3 linked regions of the Homo sapiens genome follow. The protein of the gene in region 2 interacts with the protein of the main gene of each other region in a pairwise test. Each region holds a gene or a part of one and is shown on either strand. Other genes may lie near its edges.

What was found. Proteins that work in one complex are often made in the same cells at the same time.
Region 1: the proteins of ZBTB44 (region 2) and FAM124A interact in binary tests that used the Homo sapiens proteins (3 or more experiments, as listed by UniProt).
Region 3: the proteins of ZBTB44 (region 2) and WDFY3 interact in binary tests that used the Homo sapiens proteins (3 or more experiments, as listed by UniProt).

The regions. Positions count from the first base shown.
Region 1 is NC_000013.11:51,273,757-51,281,397, forward strand, and holds part of FAM124A (protein FAM124A), read left to right. Parts: intron 1-6,693; coding exon 6,694-7,500; 3' UTR 7,501-7,641.
Region 2 is NC_000011.10:130,304,219-130,312,501, reverse strand, and holds part of ZBTB44 (zinc finger and BTB domain-containing protein 44), read left to right. Parts: intron 1-2,027; exon of another isoform or gene 2,028-2,322; intron 2,323-7,787; exon of another isoform or gene 7,788-7,865; intron 7,866-8,283. UniProt on the Homo sapiens protein: May be involved in transcriptional regulation.
Region 3 is NC_000004.12:84,669,691-84,677,331, reverse strand, and holds part of WDFY3 (WD repeat and FYVE domain-containing protein 3), read left to right. Parts: coding exon 1-133; intron 134-4,340; coding exon 4,341-4,464; 3' UTR 4,465-7,641. UniProt on the Homo sapiens protein: Required for selective macroautophagy (aggrephagy). Acts as an adapter protein by linking specific proteins destined for degradation to the core autophagic machinery members, such as the ATG5-ATG12-ATG16L E3-like ligase, SQSTM1 and LC3.

The sequences.
Region 1 (7,641 bases), on a different chromosome or scaffold from region 2:
TTTAACCTAAGTTATTGTTAATTGTTTCTGTCAGCTCCTCCTGGTCATTGAACTATGTCACGGGATATTTCTCTTTGGAAATTTCTTAAAATCAATGATACTTAATGAAACTCTGATGATCCTTTGTTAATATAAAAATCAGTTCTGTCTACTCCTGTGTTTTACAGCCAATGGGCAGGGTAATTCACAAATTACACCAAAAATAAATATTCGGGGAAAGATGCAGAACTTATACAAAGAGAAAGCTTGCACCTGGGCATGATATTCTTTCAAGTTTTACAGATTCTATCATTAGATTTGTTGGCGCTAGCTCCGGGTCCTCAGCTGTCACTTTGATTTTCTCTGTTGTTCCTCCTTAAGTGAATAGCTTTTTAATATACATCAGATCAATATCCATGTTGTTTCCTAGAACTTCTAGGTGCCCAGCCCTTTTCTGTTTATTAATAGTATCTCCTAGGATCCTTGCCACATTTTCACAAGAGTCACTACTGATACAGGTTGACTATCCCTTCTCTGAAATGCTTGGGATCAGAAGTGATTAAGATTTCAGATTTTTTTGGATTTTGGAATATTTGCATTATACTTATCACTTGAGCATTGGAAATCCACAATCCAAAATGCTTCAGTGAGCATTCCTTTGAGCATCATGTCAGCACTCAAAAGGTTTCAGATTTTGAAGCATTTTGGATTTCAGATTTGGGATTAGGAATACTCAACCTGTATTAAACAAAGCTGGTCCCTGAGGCAACTACTCAGATATTTTTTTATTTGAAAAGTTGCTCTTTATCATTAGATGTTGCTACTGCTTTTCCCAAAAATATCAGAGTCCTCATAACTTTTTTCTGTTAAAATCAAATAATATTTATTGGTATTTATGATTTATGATATATAGGCATATATCATAACTTACACACATATAAGTACCTTAAAATTACCTTAAGTTATTTTAGAAGATATGTATTTGTATCTCACATGTATTTTTGTATTTATTCATTCAGGAATATATTGAGTGCTTGCTATGTACAAAACTGAACATTTGTTTAAACACATAATTGCAGGATCAGATGTCAAGCAACCCAATTTCTAAAAGCCTCACAGAACTAAGTGAAGATTTAACAATTAACCCAGTTCCTCTAAATATATCAATATCTCCTATTTGTTGGAGTAATTTGTAAGCTCAAGTACAACTGAGAATGATAGGGACCTAAAGAATCGTGGCTTAATCAAGAGTGGCTTATTTTCTGTCCTCCCTGTGGTCATCCACAGTACTCAGGAATCCTGGTTCACAATGGCTACTGGATGCAGTAGCAAAAAGTTTTTAAAATAGAGCAAGGGGCCAGGCATGATGGCTCATGCCTGAAATCCCAGTGCTTTGGGAGGCCAAGGCAGGAGGATCACCTGAGGCCAGGAATTCAAGACCAGTCTGGGAAACATAGCCAGACCCTGTATATACAAAAAAAAAAAAAAAAAAATTGGCTGAGCATAGTATCACATGCCTTTAGCTCTAGCTACTCAGGCAGCTGCAGCAGGAGGATCACATGAGCCCAGGAGTTTGAGGCTGCAATAAGCTATAATCGTGCCACTGCACGCCAGCCTGGGTAACAGAAGGAGGCCCTGTCTCTAAAGAAATAAAGAAATAAACCAGAGTACAGTAAGTACCAGCCTTAAAGAAAAAAAGATAAATGACTTTAAAAAGAACTTCTGTTCATCAAAAGATACCAATAAGAGAACAAAAAGGTAAGCCACAAACTGGCTGATGATATTTTTTGCAATGCATATATCTAAGAAAGGTGTTAAATCCAGAGTATGCATAAAAAGCAGGCATGTCTCTAAAAGCAATGCCTAAATAGCCCATAAACATCTCATAAGATGCTCAATATCATCACTCATCAGGGAAATGCAAATTAACAACATGATGAAATGCCATTACCCACCAGAATGGCTAAAATTAAAAAGAATTACAATGCCAAATGCTGGTGAGGACGTGGAGCAACTGGAATACTTATAAATTCCTGGTAGAATTATGTATCGACGCAACCAATTTGGAAACTGACAGTATCTACTAAAGCCGCAAACATGCTCATGCTGTGGCCCAGCATTTCCACTCCTGGGAATATACCCAAGAGAAATGAGTGCATGTTGTTCACCAAATGAGGGGAAGTGGCCAAATGAGGCTTCACAGCAGCACCTTGAATTTTGTCTCCGAAGATGGCAGGTATTCTCTAAGTGCACAGACACTGGGAGCACCATGTAAAGTCATGGAGATACAAACGAGCATGAGGTGTTTGGGAGCATGGTAGTTGTAAACTGCTGGCGCACATGAGTTAGGATTCTAGAAAGACACAAGGCTCAAGGGGTAGGCCGGGTCTTGTAGAGCTTGCCAAGGAGTGAGTTTTGCCAAGGAGCTTGTTCAGGTTTGACTTTCAGAGAGATCACTCAAGAGGTATGCGGGGTGAAGCTAGGGAGGCTAAGTAACTCTTGGCAGGAAGCCACAGGGGGTGCTAATTATCACTTTGCTGCCATTTTACCAATTTGGGGGAATAAGTACTTTTACCCTGAATTATACTACCTGCCATTCTATGCAGAGAATGGAATTGGTATGTTGCTATAACTGATGATTTTCCAGAAAGCCTTACACTTCCATAATAGCGACAGGAAGAGAAGGTAGACAGATGACAATCCAGCAAGCATTTGCTCAACCGCCATCCTGTCTAGCTCAGCATCTCTTTGACAACTTTCAAACTTTCTACCAAAAACATCACTGATTTTACAAAACGTGTACGGGCTTTGTCCATTCTTAGGGTGAACTTTGCCCTTTCCATCCAAATCCTCTTCCTGTACTGACCATTCCAGAAAGACAACACAGGCTTTGCCCATGGCCAGCATCCTTAGTGAGTGTGTGAAAACCACCCAAAGGAAAGGGAAAGGAAAAGCAAAACATGGTATTTTTCTTTAGAGCAAGACTCTGATTTCTCAATGTGAACCCGTTGCCCAATTTTCTTGAGACAGCCCCAAATTTGTATTAGTCCCTGTGTTAAAATGGCCATCACGGGCTCATTACACAGCAGACATTGTCACACTGCTCATGTTTCTGCCAAGGAAAACACAAGAGGAAATGATCTTACTGGGAAAGAGGAGGTGTGAGGCTGAGGGTAAAGTCCCTGACCATGAACAAATCATGAGACTCTGCCAGGGCTCCTGGGGGAGGGGCAGAATCACCTTTACTAGCGATTTAAGAAGAAAAGATTCTTACCAAAAAGATAGCTGCACTCGTATGTTTATCACAGCACTGTCCACAGTAGCAAAGATATGGAATCAACCTAAGTGTCCATCAAGTGGATGACTGGAAAAAAAAATGCGGTATATATAGCATGGAATACTCCTTAACTATAAAAAGGAATGAAATCACATCTTTTACAGCCACATGGTTAGAATTGGAGGTCATTATCTTAAATGAAATAACTCAGAAACAGAAAGTCAAATACCACATGTTCTCATTTAGAAGTGAGACCTAAACAATGGGTACACATGGACATGCAGAGTGGAATAAGAGACACTGGAGCCTCCACAGGGTGGGAGGGTGGGAGGGTGACCAGGGGTGAGGGCTGAAAATTACCTATTGGGTGCGCTGTTCACTATTTGGGTGATGGGTACACTAAAAGCCCAGACCTCATCACTATGCAGTATCTGCACATAAGAAATCTGCACTTGTACTCCCTAAATCTATAAAAAGTAAAAAATTAAAGAGAAAGAATTGGCCGGGCATGGTGGCTCACGCCTGTAATCCCAGCACTTTGGGAGGCCGAGGCGGGTGGACCACGAGGTCAGAAGATTGAGACCATCCTGGCTAACATGGTGAAACCTTGTCTCTACTAAAAATACAAAAAATTAGCCGGGTGTGGTGGCACGTGCCTGTGGTCCCAGCTACTCAGGAGGCTGAGGCAGAAGAATCACTTGAACCCAGCAGGCAGAGGATGCAGTGGGCTGAGATCGCGCCACTGCACTCCATCCTGGCGACAGAGCGAGACTCTGTCTCAAAAAAAGAGAGAAAGGATTCTATCCATGTGCCAGGGTATGAGCCTCTTGACACCCAGATCCTTGAAAAAGATGCTTTGCCTCAGTGGTCCGCCGCAGACCCCTTCGCTTCCCCAGTTGCAAACTGTACTCAAAGGTGCAGGGAAAACTTTTGGATCAGTTACTGAATTCCAATTTTTTGGTGACTTTAGGGACATAGCCAAATTTCCCGGGCTGGTTGCCTTAAGCACATTAATTTATGTGATGCTATTCTGTTCCTTAGATAAAGTTCCTTAAATAGAAAGAAGGGAGCTTCTGGATTCCAGGGAGGCAGCTAGCCTGCACTGCTTCAAAGAGAAAGAAAGGAACGAGTACATCGCTGCTGTCACTTGGAGCAGCTCAGGAGGGCAGCCTCCAAGAGCTGAAAGCCAGGGGGAGGCTTCCATGCGAGGAGGATTCAGGTTCCTGTTTCACTCTAAAAAGGTCCACTGAGGAGGAGTCTCTGGAAACATCTAAAGTAACTCCCTCCCAGCCTCTAGTGTTTCTGGTCAGCAGACAAGCACACAAGGGAGGCCAGAGATGGAACCACCACCAGGGGAACAGCACATAAAGGAGCTCCAACCTTCACAGGTGCGGGTTGTCTTTAAATCCAACAAGACCCCACTTTTAGAAACTGACCCCTCTGCCACTGGACAGAGCCAGAGAATACCACCAGATCCGCCCATATGCAAGCCCTGCAGTCACATCAGCTCCAGGCCTCAGGAGCGATGTGGAGGCTCCTCAAGCACCTGCCTCCTGCTGCCACCCAGGATTTCCTGCCATTATTCACAATGCCATATCAGCCTCAAATTCCGCCCACCCAGCAGGCAGCTCCACTGTGCACGTGGGCACCCTCCAGTGAAAAAGACCGGGTACCATCTCTCTTCAAAGCAGCAGAATGTAGGGTTTGTCTGGATTCCTACCTTCGTCATGTGGTAAAAATAAGAGAATACAGGTAGATTTCTGTTAAACAAGCACAGTCGTGAAAATCTCTGCAAAACTACACAGTGTTCATCCTCCATCAGTTGTGCTTGATTTTAAGCCAAATTGAACAGTGCCCTATTCCCTGACACTGGGAACATTTAGACGTCCCCTGGCATTCCTTGCATGGGAACCTTGACCTTCTGCTCCTCATAAAGCAACCACAAAGGCTTCCTTTTTCAGGCAGATTCGGACTGCAAAATTTTTCACCAAGTGCATGTTCTCAAATAAGACTTTGAAGACAGAAGTTACAAGGTGATGCATACTTATCAAGAAAGAAAATGACATTAGGGCACCCAAAGGAATTGGCCTTTGGAAAAAATAAGATAGACATTTGAATTAATAAACATTGTCCCCCTCCCCCGGAAACAACCTCTGTACCCAAGGACTTCTTTCTCTAATAGCCTCATTTTATTTTCTCTTGACTTATTTTCTCTTTTATTCAGCCAATTCAAATGATTAAGAAAATTGGTTTGTTTCCCCAGCAGCCACCCAGCTGTGACACCTCTTAGGCACATCTGAGCCTTTTGGGGCTGCTCCTTACCCCATCCCAAAGGGGTGACTCTCCATTCCTGCTGGATGCCGAGAGCCCTTGTAGTAAACCCCAGTCAGAACCCTTTTCTTATTGCAGGGATTTGTAAATCAGGTACTATTAATATATACTAAGTCAAGCCAGACCGACTGCCCCCAAACCCATTATTTAATTGAAACCTTGGATGCATAGTAAGGTTGGCCTTGGGTTCTGGCCTGTATGCTTGGACACAGACCAGAGAGAGAATCTGAGAGAAGCAGACCCTGGTGCAAATGCGCATTGGAAGAGAGGTCTCCAGTTCTGCACAACAGAAACGGGTTACTGGTGAGCTGCAGTGAGGGCCAGGGAGGGCTGCTGGACCAGGAGGATAGGCTGGGATATGACAGGGCAAAGCTGCTCATCCAACCCCTGCAGGATCCGCAGGATCAGTCAGCAGGCGGCAGCTCCCTTTCCTGTACACAGTTCCTGAAAGGTAACGTATATAGAGGAATCAGTAGTTACTAGCAACAAGTAGATAAATGCTAACCCCGATAGCCCCTCACTCATGGAGGATTTACTGTCTGGAACCATGGACCACCCCACCCTAAGACTGTGTCCTGGCTATCATGCATATACTAGAATCACACCCCATGTGGATCTGGTCTGAAATTGTCTCTGCATAGCCCATCCTGATCACTTCTGTCCTCTCATCAGTAACATTTACAAACAGTGTCTATCAGGTGAGCACACTGTGATTCTTTGGTTGGAAGGAAAGAAACCCTGCAAGCATTCTTTTTGCATTTTGTGATAATTCTTATCTCCGTTATCCTGCTCAGCCAGGCCCATGTTCTTTTTGCCAGTTTGTTGAGCGCAATGGGCATGTGTGCTTTAAAAAGTATTCTGTATTGTGATAAGGAGCTGAATCTCCTCCTAGCCTCGGAGATGGCTCCTCAGACTGAAAACTCTTTCTGGTGCTCCTCAAAGCTCTGCTACCTCTGTCTTTGCTCTAGAGATTGCAGAACTGGTAATGCTGGTAATGCTTTATTGCCATGACATTGCCAGGAGTTTCCAATGATTGGTAACTGTGTTTCCTGATGCATTTAACAATTCCCATCCTGCACTAATGTGATCTGCCTCTCCCCCCACAGGCACAAAGGGTGCATAAGAAGTTTCCTAAACCTGGCAGAGTACATCATGCCTCCGAGAAGAAACGTCATTCCACTCCTTTGCCGAGCACTGCTGTACCAAGCCATACACCTGGCAGCAGCCAGCAGTCCCCGCTCAACAGTCCTCACCCGGGGCCCATCCGGACAGGCCTGCCTCCTGGGCACCAGCAGGAATTTGCCGGACGAGCCAACAGCACCCCCAACCCTCCCTGGTCTTTCCAGAGAAGCAAGTCCTTGTTTTGTTTGCCCACGGGAGGCCCCTCCCTGGCCTCCTCAGCTGAACCACAGTGGTTTTCAAACACAGGTGCCCCAGGGCACAGGGCATCAGAGTGGAGGCATGGCCACCTCCTCTCCATCGATGACCTAGAGGGGGCCCAGGAGACAGACGTGGACACAGGCCTGCGGCTGTCCTCATCGGACCTGTCTGTGGTCTCTGCATATTCTGCACCCAGTAGGTTCTGCAGCACAGTGGAGACACCCCTCCCCTCCGAAAGATGCAGCAGCCACTGGGCAGCTCACAAGGATTCCAGGGAGGGACCACTGCCCACTGTCAGCAGGGTGACCACAGAGGCCTCCTGGGCTTCCCTCCCTTTCTTCACCAAAAGGTCTTCCAGCTCCTCAGCGACAGCTCGTGCTGCTCCCCCAGCTCCCAGCACCTCCACCCTCACAGACTCCTCCCCACAGCTCCCATGCGATACCCCCAAAGTCAAGCAGACTGATGGAGACATGCCACCACCCCCAGGGTCGGCTGGCCCCGGGGATAACGACATGGAGGAATTCTACATCTGAATGCCCTCTGCTCTTGTTCTCGAAACACACAAACTCAGAGACACAGACTCAGGCCCCACTGCCCCTCTGGCCACTGAGCACACCACATTCTTCATGATCCATTTCCCAGGAGCCCGTAGCACATTTGCCTACCACCCACTC
Region 2 (8,283 bases):
CTGGAAGTTAGGTGTAAAGGAAGGCTTAATTAGCTTAAAGTAAAACTTCCTTTGGCAAGAATATTTAATAGGTGATGCTGTGTACCTCCTGTTGCATAATATAGGAGGCACACAATGTCAGATTCCCACACTATTAATGATGCTAAATGTAACCATTTGATTAAAGTGCTGACTACTGATCTGTTGTAAAGGTGTGGTTTGCCAGTTTGTGATTAATATGTAATCTTGGGGTAAAACTTGGACACTAAGCAAATACCCAGTTTCTGACAATCTTTTGCTTAGTGGTTTTTAGCACCCATGATGACTTTTGCTTAAATCAGTTATTGGAGGTTCTCTGTAAGGAAGAGATTTCCTTCATTAAGTGCAGGTAAACTATTGTTCTTCCCCAAAATGCAAATTAAATGTTAAATTTAATCTCTTTACTTTTCAATATTCATAGTAAAGAGCTGGAGAAATAGCCACCCCCAATGATGTTTTTTGGGGCAGGGGTGAATGATACCACTTCAGACTCTCATGGGTTTTAATTTATTCCTTGTTTTATAACCAGTTACAGTCGTCTTTCTTTTTAATGACCAAATTGTCCCAGATTTGGTCAGTAGGAACCATTTCAAGCTGACTATTGTGTGTCTTGACACCCCTGCTCCCCATTAATCTTGGAGTGCTTTCTGACACGAGTTACTCCAGGGTTTATCTTATACTTTCTTTGCTCACCTCTGGAAAGAGCTGTTTATCCAGGGAGTCTTGGTTCTTTTTAATGAGAAATCGTATATAGAAACCAAGTTCTGGATGTTTGGCATATTCGTTGCTGCTGCAGTATCATTGCTTCTAGGTGCTTTGAGAGGAGAGAACTAAGAAAAAGGTTTTTGCTTGTTTAATCATGAGTTCAGAGTGATATTCCAATTCCTATTTAACAAGCAGACTTTTTCTTCCTTGACTCTATATTTGTCTCTTGTCTTAAATGAAAATCTTGGTTTTTAATACAGTTAATAAACTGGCCAAGCACAGTGGCTCATGCCTGTAATCCCAGGACGTTGAAAGGCCGAGGTGGAAGGATTGCTTGAGCCCAGGAGTTCAAGGCCAGCCTGGGCAACATGATGAGACCCCATCTCTATAAAAAATAAAAAAATTAGCCAGGCGTGGTGGTGTGTGCCTGTGTTCCCAGCTGCTCAGGAGGCTGAAGCAGGTGGATCACTTGAGCCCAGGAGGTTGAGGCTGCAGTGAGCCATGTTCATACCCCACTGCACTTCAGCCTGGATGACAGAGTGAGACCCTGTCTCCAAAAAAAATAATAAACTTATTTGCTTTCTCCCACTGTATACATAAAATCATTTTAAAATTATAGTGCTGGTATTGCTAATACCAATAAGCTTCATGTAGTTTAAGATTTCTTTGCATTTATTTTCGTATTTAGACTATATTGCATGAAGAATGTATAATGAGTACTGTGTTCAAAAGTCACTTGAAATACTTTTCTCTGGTTATGCTACCAATTTGATATGGTTCATAGGTTTCAGTTTTTACTTAGGATTTTATTTTTGAATATGTAAAGTATGTACATAGTGTAGAAGTCAAAATAATGTTTTAAAACTATACTTGGATTAGCCGGGCATGGTGGCACATGCCTGTAGTCTCAGCTACTTGGGAAGCTGAGGCAGGAGAATTGCTTGAACCGGGGAGGTTGCAGTGAGCCAAGATTGCGCCATTGCACTGCAGCCTGGGTGACAAAGCGGGACTCCATCTCAAAAGCAAAACAAAACAAAAAAAAACTATATTTGGATAAACCTCATTAAAATTAGTTTTTAAAGATGAAGTATTGTTTACCTTTACCATACTCCTTTTAGTATCTACTACATTCTCACATCAAGCTCAGAAGAATTAGCAATAGACAAATTATGTTATGTGAAGCCACATAGAAGTACTTTTAAATTTTAAAATTAGATTCTGCTTCCTCTGGCAAAGAGAACTAAGACTAGTTTTTAGAAGTTAGCAGAGAAGTGGATTCCATGCTTACTTTTTTTTTTTTTTAAAGACGGGGGATTTACTGTGTTGCTCAGGCTGGAGTGCAGTGGCTATTCACAGATGTGATCCTACTACTGATAAGCACGGGAGTTTTGACCTGCTCTGTTTCTGACCTGGGCCACTTCTCTCATTAGGCAACCTGGTGGTCCCTCACTCCCTGGAGGTCACCATGTTGATGCCTAATTTAGTGCAGACACCCAATCGGCATAGGATACTACAGTCCAGAACTTCTGGGCTCAAGGGATCTTCCTGCCTCAGCCTCTTGAGTAGCTGGGACTACAGGCACACACCACTGCGCCCAGCTCTTTTTCTTAAATAGTGATTTAAAATAGTGATAGATTCTCATTATGTTGTCCAGGCTGATCTCTCAAACTCCTGAGCTCAAGTGATCCTGCTGCCTTGGCCTCCCAAAGTGCTAAGATTACACATGTAAGCCTGTAGCCGTAGGCCTAGATACCATATTTTTAAATAAAAATTCCATAAAAATAGAACTGTAGCTTTTACTTAAATCATGTCTTTAAAGAGGCAGGTAGTTGGTAGAGGTTTTATGACTCCATCTACTTTTTTAACTTTTTTTTTTTTTTTTTGAGATGCAGTCGCCCTCTGTTGCCCAGGCTGGAATGCAGTGGCTCGATCTCAGCTCACTGCAATCCACCTCTGCCCCCTGGGTTCAAGCGATTCTCCTGCCTCAGCCTCCCTAGTAGCTGGGATTACAGGCATGTACCACCACGCCCAGCTAATTTTTGTATTAGTAGAGATGGGGTTTCACCATGTTGTCCAGGCTGGTCTCGAGCTCCTGACCTCAAGTGATTCACCTGCCTCGGCCTCCTGAAGTGTAATCCTGGCCTCCTAAAGTGCTGGAATTACAGACGTGAGCCACTGCGCCCAGGTGACTCCATCTACAACAAAACTGGCATAAATATGCTATGTACAGATAAAAAGGCATTTGGATATGTGATCAGTGGAGATAACACATTTTGTTTGGGTTGGACCAAATTTGATATAAATTCATAATTATGTGATCTCAAATGAAGTTTTAAGAGGGAGCAGTGTTCATCTAAAGTAAGCAGAGCACAATTAGGCAGTTTATCAGCCTCCTGTCAACCAAGTGCTGAAAAGCAAAACTGTGCCTGTAGTGTGTTTTCCTGTGTTCATCCTCACTGTCATAGGTCACACTAGCTGAGGCTGGCGTTGCAGGTGGTAAAGGAATTACCAAGGCAATTGTAGGTAAAGAAGGGCAGATTTATTAGAGAAAGTATGAAAGTAGGTTGGTTGCAAGGGTGCAACGGGCAGATCAGCAAGAGAGAAGCTGACTGCCAGGAGACAATGGCTTGCTGGGCATGTTACAGGATGATGCTTCTGCTGTGTGCTGCAGAGAGGGCTATGTGCAGTACTGATAAGGCCAAGGTTGCAGTGAGCTAACTTGCATTTTTCTGTCAGCTGAGAGTCTGGTGATAAGTTGAGTGCAGAAAGCTTGTGAGTTATTTGTGCAAGAGGGCTGTGTGTCTTGGACCATGAAGAAAGGCAGACTTATACCTTATCTGCTTTTTCTTTTTGCTGTACCCTTTTCCCACCCGCCTGACTCCTTTTCCCTTACTAGGACTCCACAATCACTGCTTTCAATAACAGAGTGAACATCTAGTTCCATTAGGGAGTGGAGTGGGAAGATGGAGAATGCTTGCACTTGGACCCATTCACCCTCATTCTGTCTTTAATCTCAGTAAAATACATACACTACCCAAGGTTCTTAGAACATATAAGGTGATGAAGAAGAATACTATAAACAGTTGCATGGGTATGTGTAGCCATGTAGCAGCTAGAACCTGTTGTGTAGGCTGAATGAACTAATACAGTGTTGATAATAATGCTAACATTTGTTATGCCCTTTCTGTATGCCAGCTGTGCTAAACATTTTATACATTATCTTATTTAAATCTCACATTAACACTTTGACATTGCTACTAGTATCTTATTTTGCAGTAAGGAAACTGGTATCTAAAAGCATTAAATGACTTGCCTAGAGTATCACAATAAGTGGCCGACCCAGGTTTCAAATTCAAGGCTGTTTAGAGTTAGCACTTAGCTGCTTTGCTCCACCTCACAACTAAATGTAACAAGTCATAAAAATTGAATAAATTTTCAGTCACCATGAATACGGAACTACATGACTGATGCTGTAACAACCTCAGAGATTGCAACGGGGATATGTTCTGAGAAATGCGTCGTTAGGCGATTGTGTCATTGTATGAACATCATAAAGTGTACTTAGACAAAACTTGATGGTATGGCCTACTCTACATCTAGGTTATATGGTATAGCCTGTTGCTCCTAGGCCACGTATCTGTACAGCATGTTACTGTACTGAATGCTGTAGGCTTTTGTAATGCAGTGGAAAGTATATGTATATCTAAGCATATCTAAACCTAGAAAAGGTGCAGTAAAAATATGGTATTACAGGGTTGCGCACGGTGGCTCATGCCTGTAATCCCAGTACTTTGGGAGGCGGAGGCGGGTGGCTCACCTAAGGTCAGGAGCTCGAGACCAGCCTGACCAATATAGTGAAACCCTGTCTCTACTAAAAATACAAAAATTAGCCAAGTGTGGTGGCATGCACCTGTAGTCACAGCTACTTGGGAGGCTGAGACAGGAGAATTGCTTGAACCTGGAAGGTTACACCAGTACCATGCTGTTTTGGTAACTATAGCCTTGTAGTATAGTTTGAAGTCAGGTAATGTGATTCCTCCAGCAGTGAGCCCAGATTGCACCACTGCCCTCCAGCCTGAGCGACAGAATGAGACTCTTGTCTCAAAAATAATATGGTATTATAATATGGGACGGTTGTGGTATTTGTGGTCTATCATTGAGGGACACATGCCACGCATGATTGTATATCATTTTCCTTTCTCATAGGTGCGGGAGTTTCTGACCCCTTGCTTCAGAAACTGCATTTAGATACTACTTTAAAAGGCATTTTAAAAGTAGAGTAAAAATCAAGATGGATTGATGGATGGATAGGTATGTGATAAAACAATAACAGTAGACTTTTTTTTTTTTTTTTGAGACAGAGTCTTGCTGTGTTGCCCAGGCTGGAGTGCAGTGGCACGATCTCAGCTCACTGCAAGCTTCATCCCCTGGGTTCACGCCATTCTCCTGCCTCAGCCTCCCAAGCAGCTGGGACTACAGGTGCCTGCCACCATGCCTGGCTAATTTTTTTGTATTTTTAGTAGAGACGGGGTTTCACCGTGTTAGCCAGGATGGTCTTGGTCTCCTTACCTTGTGATCTGCCCACCTTGGCCTCCCAAAGTGCTGGGATTACAAGCGTTAGCCACCACACCCGGGCTACAGTAGAATGTTAATGGTGGGCTTTAGGTATGGCTATTCAGGTATTCAACTATAATTTTTTTTTTTTTTGCTTGTTCTTTGATTTTTTTTTTTTTTGAATGTTGATAGTTTTGGGGGTGCAGGTGGTTTTTGGCTATATGGATAAGTTCTTTAGTGGTGATTTCTGACATTTTGGTGCACCCGTCACCTGAGCAGTGTACGCTGTACCCAATGTGTAGTCTTTTATCCCTCACCCCACTTGCACCCTTCCCTCCAAGTCCCCAAAGTCCGTTATATCCTTCATATGCTTTTGCGTCCTTGTAGCTTAGCTCCCACTTATAAGTGAGAACATACGATATTTGGTTTTCCATTCCTGAGTTACTTCACTTAGAATAATGGCTTACAACTCCATCCAAGTTGCTGCAAAAGCCAGTATTTCATTCAGTTTTCATGGTGTAAATATACCACGTTTTCTTTATCTGCTCGTTGTTTGATGGGCGTTTAGGTTGGTTCTATATTTTTGCAATTGTGAATTGTGCTGCTGTAAGTGTGTGTACATGTGTCTTTTTCACATAATGACTTCTTTTCTTTTGGGTAGATACCCAGTAGTGGGATTGCTGGATCAAATGGTAGTTCTACTTTTAGTTCTTTTTTTTTTTTGAGTGGAGTTTAGCTCTTGTTGCCCAGGTTGGAGTGCAGTGGCGCAATCTCGGCTCACTGCAACCTCTGCCTCCTGGGTTCAAGCCATTCTCCTGCCTCAGCCTCCCAAGTAGCTGGGATTACAGGCATGCACCACCACGCCCAGCTAATTTTGTATTCTTAGGAGAGGTGGGTTTTCTCCATGTTGGTCAGGCTGGTCTCGAACTCCCGACCTCAGGTGATCCGCCCACCTCAGCTTCCCAAAGTGCTGGGATTACAAGTGTGAGCCATCGTGCCCAGCCTACTTTTAGTTCTTAAAGGAATCTCCATACTGTTTTTCATAGTGGTTGTACTAGTTTACATTTCCACCAGCAGTGTAAAAGTGTTCCCTTTTCACCACAGTCATGCCAATATTTATTATTTTTAATTTTTAAATTATAGCCATTCTTACAGGAGTAAGGTAGTATCTAATTGTGGTTTTAATTTGCATTTCCCTGATAATTAGGGATGTTAAACATTTTTTCATGTGTTTGTTGGCTGTTTTTATATCATTTGAGAATTGTCTATGTTTTTTTTAACCCATTTTTTGACAGGATTGGTGGTTTTTGTTTGTTCGTTTGTTTTTGCTGGTTTGTTTGTATTCCTTGTAGATTCTGGATATTAGTCCTTTGTTGGATGCATACTTTGCAAAAATTTTCTACCACTTTGGGTTGTCTCTTTACTCTGCTGATTATTTCTTTTGCTATGTAGAAGCTTTTTAGTTTAATTAGGTCCCATTTATTTTTGTTGCATTCGCTTTTGGTTTTTTGGTCATGAATTCTTTGCCTAAGCTAATGTCTAGAAGAGTTTTTCTGATGTTATCTTCCAGAATTTTTATGGTTTCAGGCCTTAAGATTTAAGTCTTTGATCCACCTTGTGTTGATTTTTGTGTAAGATGAAAGATAAAGATCCAGTTTCATTCTTCTACATGTGGCTTGCCAATTATCCCAGCACTGTTTGTTGAATAGGGTGTCCTTTCTCCACTTTATGTTTTTGTTTGCTTTGTCAAAGACCAGTTGGCTGTAAGTATTTGGCTTTATTTTGGGGTTCTCTATTCTGTTCCATCGGTCTACATGCCTGTTTTTATACCAGTACCATGCTGTTTTGGTGACTATAGCCTTGTAGTGTAGTTTGAAGTCAGGTAATGTGGTTCCTCCAGATTTGTTATTTTTGCTTAGTCTTGCTTTGACTATGTGGGCTCTTTTTTGGTTCCATATGAATTTTAGAATTGTGTTTTCTAGTTCTATAGAATGATGATGGTATTTTGATGTGAATTGCATTAAATCTGTAGATTGCATTTGGCAGTAAGGTCATTGTCACCATATTGATTCTACCCATCCATGAGCATGGGATGTGTTTCCATTTGTTTGTGTCATCGATGATTTGTTTGAACAGTGTTTTGTAGTCTTCCTTGTAGAGATCTTTCACCTCCTTGGTTAGGTATATTCCTAAGTATTTTAATTTTTCTTTGGCAGCTGTTGTAAAAGGGATTGCGTTCTTGATTTGATTCTCGGCTTGGTCATCATTGGTGTATAGCAGTGCTACTGATTTGTGTACATTAATTTTGTATCCTGAAACTTCACTGAATTCATTTATCAGATCTAGGAGCTTTTCAAATGAATCTTGAGGGTTTTCTAGGTATAAGTTTGTATCATCAGCAAACAGCAACAGTTTGACTTCCTCCTTTGCAGCTTGGTATAAAATTCTTTAAATTTTGCTGTATCTAAAAGTTTTCAAAATAAAATGTTACTGACTAAAAATATATTCTTAGGACTGTACTTTCAGGGATCATTTCTATAGTTTGTTTCTAGAGAAGTTTCTCTGAATATGTAGAGCACTGGAAAAATCAATATTTTTTTTAAAAAAGAGAAAAATATATGTATATTCTTATTATAAAGCAGTATTGGCAGCTGTGTAAAAACCAGTAACATGCTGTATCCTCCATGTCTGTGTACGATGATCCTCTGAAAAATTTATTAACTCTTCCTAGTCTTTTATCACTGAAAATGGTCAAGCATTAAAGACTGTTGTAAAGAGGGTTCCCTCATTACTTAGGAGGCTTCTAATTAAGCTCCTTCCAATATGATTTTTTAATACTCTTATAAATATTTCATATATCAAATTTCCGCCTGTGGTTTCCTGACATTTTGTAACCCCTATTGAATACACTCTATATAAGCGTTATGGGGTGTTTTTGCTTTTTAAGTGCTACCACATTCACAACTGTAACGGATAGTCCTTGGTACTTCAGAATAATTGTTTAAA
Region 3 (7,641 bases), on a different chromosome or scaffold from region 2:
AGCCAGGCCGTTCTGCTGCTGATCACTGGGTGAAGGATGAAGGTGGTGACAGCTGCTCAGGCTGCTCGGTGAGGTTTTCACTCACAGAAAGACGACACCATTGCAGGAACTGTGGTCAGCTCTTCTGCCAGAAGTAAGATAAGATATCTGCTTTTTGAATTTACATTGATTAAGCTCTAAGGTTGTTAATTATGTCCTGCACACAGGTTCTGATTTGCCCTGGCGTCCCCACTACAGTATGCCTTGTTGGTATGAACCAGTCTTCACTTTTTCTGTTCTTCTTTATTACTACAATTAGGAAATTTTTCTGTCATACAAGTCACAAACACCTTGTCATCCATGACACAGAATGCACATATGCTAATATTTCATCGTATTTAATTTAGAGACCTGTATGTGAAATGATTCTATAAACACTATAGATACATTGTAAGTATCCTCTTTGCACCTTTCACCAATCACACCCATTCTCCATGTTTTTATGCTTTCAGGAACATGTGTTGCCTCTGTAAACATTACATCATACTATTTTGGTGTTCTCAGCTTTACTTTTCAGCTTTACGTACTATACTGTTTTTGCCCTTCTGTAACTTTCTTACTCAACATTGTTTTTGAAATCCATTTATATAGATATCTTATTGTAATATATTCATTTTAACTACTGTCGGTTATTTTAATTATATGAATTTATCATCATTATTTCCCTTTTGATGCCCTCTCAGGGTTTTTTTTTTTCTATTTTTATCAGTACTATAAATAATGCTACAATGCACATCCCTATAAATGCCCTTCTAATACACAAGCTAGAATTCCTCTAGAGATGGAATGAAATTGATAGAACACAGACTTATTCTTGATCTTAATTAGATATTGCCAAATTACTCTTCAAAACAGTAGTGCTAGTTAATACTACCTCCACTACCTCCAACAGGCCATGAAGGTTCTCCAAATTCTTAGTCATGCTTGGTACTGCCAGACTTTTTCCACTTTTGCCAATCTGATAGCTAAAAAATAGTGCTTTGTTGTTTTAACTTGCAATGCTAGTGAGACAACATCTTTTCATGTTTGTTGGCTATTTGGGTTTCCTTTTGGGTACTTTGCCCTTTTTTTTTCCTTGAGGAGTTCTTTTATATATTCTGTGCTGTACACCTTTGTTTTTTATATATCTTGCAGATACGTTCTGCCAGTCTGTGGCTTGTGTTTCAACTTTGTATATGTTTTTTCTGTCATCTACAAGTTTTTAAACTGGTTGTAGTCACATGTATTACTCTATGATTTTTGCTTTTTTGTGCCTTAAGAATTCTTTCTCTGTCCTAGGATCACAAAGATAATCTTGTTTATTTTCTTTTAAAGGTTTCAAAGTTTTATTTTTCACATTTAGGTCTTTAATTCATTTGTAATTTATTTTGGGGTATAACATGAGGCGAGGATCTATTTTTCCCCCATATGAAAGGTCAGTGGTCCCATGGCTATAGATTTGGTTGATATCTCTGTCCTACACCTGGGTCCCAGATACACATCCACAGTCGTTACTTTTTCTGCCAGACAACAGAAAGGATTCCATGGACAGTACACTTTAAGGCTTATATTGCCTTACTCCAGAGATGCTTTCATAGAAAGCATATTATTCTCAACTTGTGTAATTATGAGTCCATTCCTGAGGTTTTATAGGCAGCATTGGCTTACTGGTATGGGCATAGTCTTTGGGTTTACACTGACCAAATGCTCACTGTGCTACTTTCTGTTGCCATAATGCCAGCAAGTTACCGAGCCTCTCTGAGCTTTGGTTTCTTTATCTGTAAATGTGGGTAAGAAGACCAGTCCTCTTAGAGCTATTGAGAGAATTAAATGAGATCACATATATGAGTGTTGTAAAGCACCAAGTTCAGAGTCTGGCAAAACAGGTGTTCCATCATTTGATTCCTTAAACCTTTTCTGCTGGGCAGTCTGGTTCAAGATGAGGGACCCAAAATGTTGCAGCCAGCCATTTCCTGTGGGAATTTCTGTGAGGCTGGCAGAGGATTCTGTCTAGTGGCTCTGTGCTTTGAAAGGCCTGCTCTATAAAACCTATAATGGGACCGGGCACAGTGGCTCATGCCTGTAATGCCAGCACTTTGGGAGGCTGAGGTGGGCTGATCACCTGAGGTCAGGAGTTCGAGACCAGCCTGGCCAACATGGCAAAACCCTGTCTGTACTAAAAATACAAAAATTAGCCAGGTGTGGTGGTGAGCTACTCAGGAGGTTGAGGCGAGAGAATCACTTGAACCCAGCAGACAGAGGTTGCAGTGACCCGAGATCACGCCACTGCACTCCATCCAGCCTGAGCAACAGAGCAAGACTCCATCTCAAAAAAATAGATAATAAATTTAAAAACCCATAATGGGTTTTATAGAGCAGGCCTTTCAAAGCACAGAGCCGCTAGACATATATATATATATCTTTTATTTTTATTTTTATTTTTTTTGAGACGGAGTCTCACTCTGTCACCCAGGCTGGAGTGCAGTGGCGTGATCTCGGCTCACTGCAGCCTCCGCCTCCTGGGTTCAAGCGATTCTTCTACCTCAGCTTCCTGAGTAGCTGGGACTACAGGCGTGCACCACCACGCCTGGCTAATTTTTGTATTCTTAGTAGAGACGGGGTTTCACCATATTGGCCAGGCTCGTCTCGAACTCCTGACCTTGTGGTCTGCCCACCTTGGCCTCCCAAAGTGCTGGGATTACAGTCATGAGCCTCCGCACCCAGCCTATATATATATATTTCTTGAGATGGGGTCTTCCTCTATCACCCAGGCTGGAGTACAGTGGCACGATCACAGCTCAGTGCAGCTTTGATCTCCCAGGCTCAAGCAGTCCTCCCACCTCAGCCTTCCAAGTAGCTGAGACTATAGGCAAGAGCCACCACACCTGGCTAATTTTTGTATTTTTTGTAGAGATAGAGTCTCACTATGTTCCCCAGGCTGGTCTCACAGCCGCGGGCTCAAGCAGTACCCCCGCCTCAGCCTCCTAAAGTGCTGGGATTACAGTTTTCAGCCTCCACACCCATCATATTAATCTAGTGATTTGTACTAGCACTCCCGTATGTATGCTGGCACACATCTGTTCTTTGTAGTGTTTAATTTTCAAAATATTGTTTAAATATAGGTAATTCTTTAAATTATCCATTGCTATTAAATGTTGGATGGAAGCTTTATTGGAAACTGACCAAACAGTGATAAGTTCTGATGAAGCAGGCACAGAAGGAAGTGCTTTCCAGAACACACAGCCTGTGGTCTCTATGGCTGAGAGCTGTTGACACTCTTGAGGGATCTGAGAGGTCCAGTGACAGTCCTTTAAACCCATAAGGTTATAGTACTTAATTTACTCTCTGGACATTTTTACTGGTAGATTAATGGACTAAACATAAATCTCCATTTCAAGGCCAGGCACAGTGGCTCACGTCTGTAGTCTCAGCACTTTGGGAGGTCAAGGCAGGAAGATCACTTGAGGCCAGGAGTTTGAGGACAGCCTGGACAATGTAATGAGACCCCATCCCTACCAAAAAAAAATTTTTTTTTTCATTTCCATTTCAATCTTCTGAAAATCCAAGCCTAAAGTGATTTAATACCACATCCTGAGTCACACCTGGCTTTATTCCAGGAATAGGAACTCTGAATACTTCTTAAAGAATTTGAACATCTCTTAAGAATAGTCTCCTTCAAACAGTTCTAGCAAGATAAATAGGAAATGAGGGTGTTGGGACTGGAAAAGGAAAGCCAGTCTAACTGTTTAAGAAATGATTAAAGAGTGGATCAATCAAAATGTTTAAAAGCACAATGGAACTTGATAGTGATCAAACTCATATTTCTTTTGGAAATTAGAAGACTCACTAATGAGTCATTAGTAATTCTCTTGAAAATAGATACTCATTAGTGAGTCTTCTAATTTCCGCTAGTGAGTTTTTCTGATTTCCAAGAGAAATATGTCAAGCTCCAGGTAAAGACATTGACATACCTCCCAAGCTTATAGGCCATGAGAATTAGTCTACACAGGTAGAATGGCCTTACATCACTGTTCAGACACCTTGGCCTCATTGTATAGGAAAATCTTAACTCTGTTTTTTTGTTTTCGTTTTTTTAATTCTTGTCAGTCAAAGAAATAGCTTCCCTGGTTTAATACTGCTTTTCTTCATAGACTGAAACAAATAATACAGCTTTCCTTTTAGTCCTTGTTCAGCCACACAACACAAACCAGTATGGCCTTTGGCATTTTACTGCAAGCTTTCCATTCGATTATTAATGTTTCCGGTGCCCATGATCAAGCATGGAGAAGACCTATAATTAATTGACTTTTCCTTTCCTTTAGGTGCAGTCGCTTTCAATCTGAAATCAAACGCTTGAAAATCTCATCCCCGGTGCGTGTTTGTCAGAACTGTTATTATAACTTACAGCATGAGAGAGGTTCAGAAGATGGGCCTCGAAATTGTTGAAGATTCAACAAGCTGAGTGGAGACCATGGTCTGTAGACCCCTTCCCGATTCTCCTGTCCCAGCTTGGAAGGCATTGAAAACAGTCTCCGTTTACACATCTCTTCATACCACGTGTTTGAAGTGTTAAAATTCAAAGGGATCATTGAATAAAACGGGTGTAGAGTACAGGAATGGGGCAGACGCGATTCAGGTGAACAGCACAAGAAGAATATGAGGTGGTTCCTAGGAGCAACACTTTCGACCTCCAGTTCTCCCTGATGACAGTAGCTGTCTCCAAGAGAAAAATCCTCACTTATTAACTCTCTTTTCTTGCATCTCATTTTTATAGAGCTACTCATCCTTATTTGGAAAAACCAACAACAAAAAAGGCTTTTAGAAAATGGTTGTAAATCTGACTTCTTTGCAAGTAACTATGTATATTGTAAATAGATATAAAAGGCCTTTTTTCTAAATAAGGACTTAACTGCCTGTAACATGAAACTTCAAACTAAACCACTAACTCAATGAACTACTTATGGTTTGTCTGACATCCCTCACTTACCAATTAATTATAAATATGTTTTTTTAAATCCCCAAAGACATTATCTGTGGTCTTTTTTTCCTTTCAAGCTCAGCCTGTGTGCCTGATGTCATTTCTTTCAAGTTGCCCACAGTATCTCCACTTAAACTAGGCTAGTAACCAAAATAATGTGGACCTTCTTTAGGAAACAGTGTGGGAGAATAGGAGTCCAGCCGTAAGATAAACTGGAAATATTTGGGCGTCTTGTACCTGGCTACGCACCACCTCAGTGTTGTTCCTACATAAACAGGGCCCCTTTTAAACTTGTATGTGGACTGCTGTTTGGTCAAAGAATACCTTCTTAGCATTGCAGAAAGGTGGTCAGATGACCAGTGTAGTGCAGGAAACAGCCCTGTCTCAACTAATGGAAATATATTTGCATGTAACCCAAAATTAGCTTATCTTGCATAGAACATAATAAGTATGTGTCTTTGGTGACACTAATGTTCTACTATAGCTTATTTTCAAACAAGGGGTAAAAAAAGGAAAGAAAGAAGTGTACAGAATTAACATATAAACTTTGTTGTAAAACTGAATCATGTCAGAACTGCTTAAAATTAACCTTTACCATTTAATGTCATCTACCTGAAAACAGTGAGATTTATACTGTATCAATGTCTATTTTTTTGTTTTTGCTATGAATATAATTACAGTATTTTAATATTTAGTTATTTAATTTGTTCTACTAGTTGGATACAGAACACACAAATCCAGGGGGATTAAAGCTGGAAGGGGCTAAGAGATTAGTTTACAGAGAAAAGGCTTGGTGGTGGGATTTTTTTAAATGTGTGTTATGTACATATATATATATATATAATATATATTAAAAATGAAACAATTAATCTAGATTTTAACATTTTCAGAAACTTAGTGATAACATTATGAACAATTCTAAAAGCCCTGTGATTTGAAAAATATAGAATCATTAATGGCCCAAGATAGGCCTTCACACCTTCACAGGTGCGAAAGGAAAGGCCTTCACACCCTCACAGAGGCATCATGCAAAGGACAGCGGCTTTGGCTTTTCCAATTTTCCATCTTTAGGCCCTGGTGAGAGGCACACTTATGCACTAAAATGCACATATATGCACATGCATTCAAAAATAGGCATTTGGTACAATGGTGATCTTGTACCTGATGGGCTGAAACCAGCTTAAGAACAAATTTGTTCTTCCTGATATGATAACTAGGTCTCCAAGAGAAAATAGAAAGGCTGCTTTAGTGCCTTACGCTTACTAAATTTAAATCTTTATTTACCTGGGTTTGAGCCTACAGTCTATTTATGATTACATATCAAAATTGATTAAAACACTTCCATTTCTAAAAGTTCAAATATACTTGTTAATAAAAGGATTATCGGCATTAATACTTTAATTTAAAGAAAAGTTGTGTTCTGTTTTCCTTTCTGTGTCTTACTCCCCCCACACTCTCCCTCCCCCATCACCATCTTCAATTCTAATAAATAATGCTGATGTTCAACAGTTGCAGAAATTGTGCTATTATGTAACTGTGGGCCTTGCCCCTGTCTGGCCCTCTAGATGATTTGTAGCAGTGTTATTCTACACTTTTTAAAAGAAGCGTCCTCCTTTTGTCCATGAATCATGTTTACCCCATACCCAGTGGCAGAGGTGTTCTTTAAAGACTTGAATATATGAATGTGTGTGTGTAGTTACTTAAAGGTTATTCCTCTTTGTAATAGGAAACTATATGGGATGAACACTTTTAAACTTTCCGACACAACTTCCATTACTAACTTTCTAACAGAACTTCCATAACTAGAAGGTGGAAACCAAAACCCTCATGGTAGTATTTCCTCTGGCAGCTGGTGCTGTGGGCAACTGTTTTGTTCAATCGGGTTTCTTTTCTTTTTGCCTCTAATGCAGAAATCAACAGAATCACTCACACATACAAGTACACTCACATACATAAACTAATTATTTCTCTGGATATCTTTCTGTGTTCCATGTAAATTTATTTACCAACATCTATTGTCAACATGTACATCTACCTTAGTATGGTCTGCATTCTTTTTCTGAGAGTACCTCATAGGGCTCCTGCCTGATCTTTGTAGTTTGTTCATTCATCCATCCACCTGTTCATTTGTTCATCCATGTATTCTAACATTTCTATGTAGTGTGCAACTCTAATGTCATGCTTTTGAAGAAGAGAATAGCTGCCCATAGCAGCCATCCGTCTGGATAATAGCAAAACACTCTAGATAAGTTATTTTGCACTTTCTTATGTATAAAGTTGGTAGAAACTTATTTTTGCTTTGTATCATTTAAATACATTTTGTTTTGGTAAATGAACTGTGTATAAAATATTTATGCCGTTAAAACTGTTTTTAGAAAGTATTTTTAATTTCAGCAAGTTTGGTTACTTGTTGCATGACTCTTAACACAGCTGACTTTTTGTGTCAGTGCAATGTATATTTTTTGTCCTGTTATTAACTTGTAAGCCCTAGTAATGGCCAATTATTTGTACAGCAACAGAAGTAAATTGAAGATACTGGCTAAGACTGGATTGATTGTGGACTTTTATACTATATTGCAGAAACCAATATCTGTTTCTTGGTGGTTATGTAAAAGACCTGAAGAATTACTATCTAGTGTGCAGTC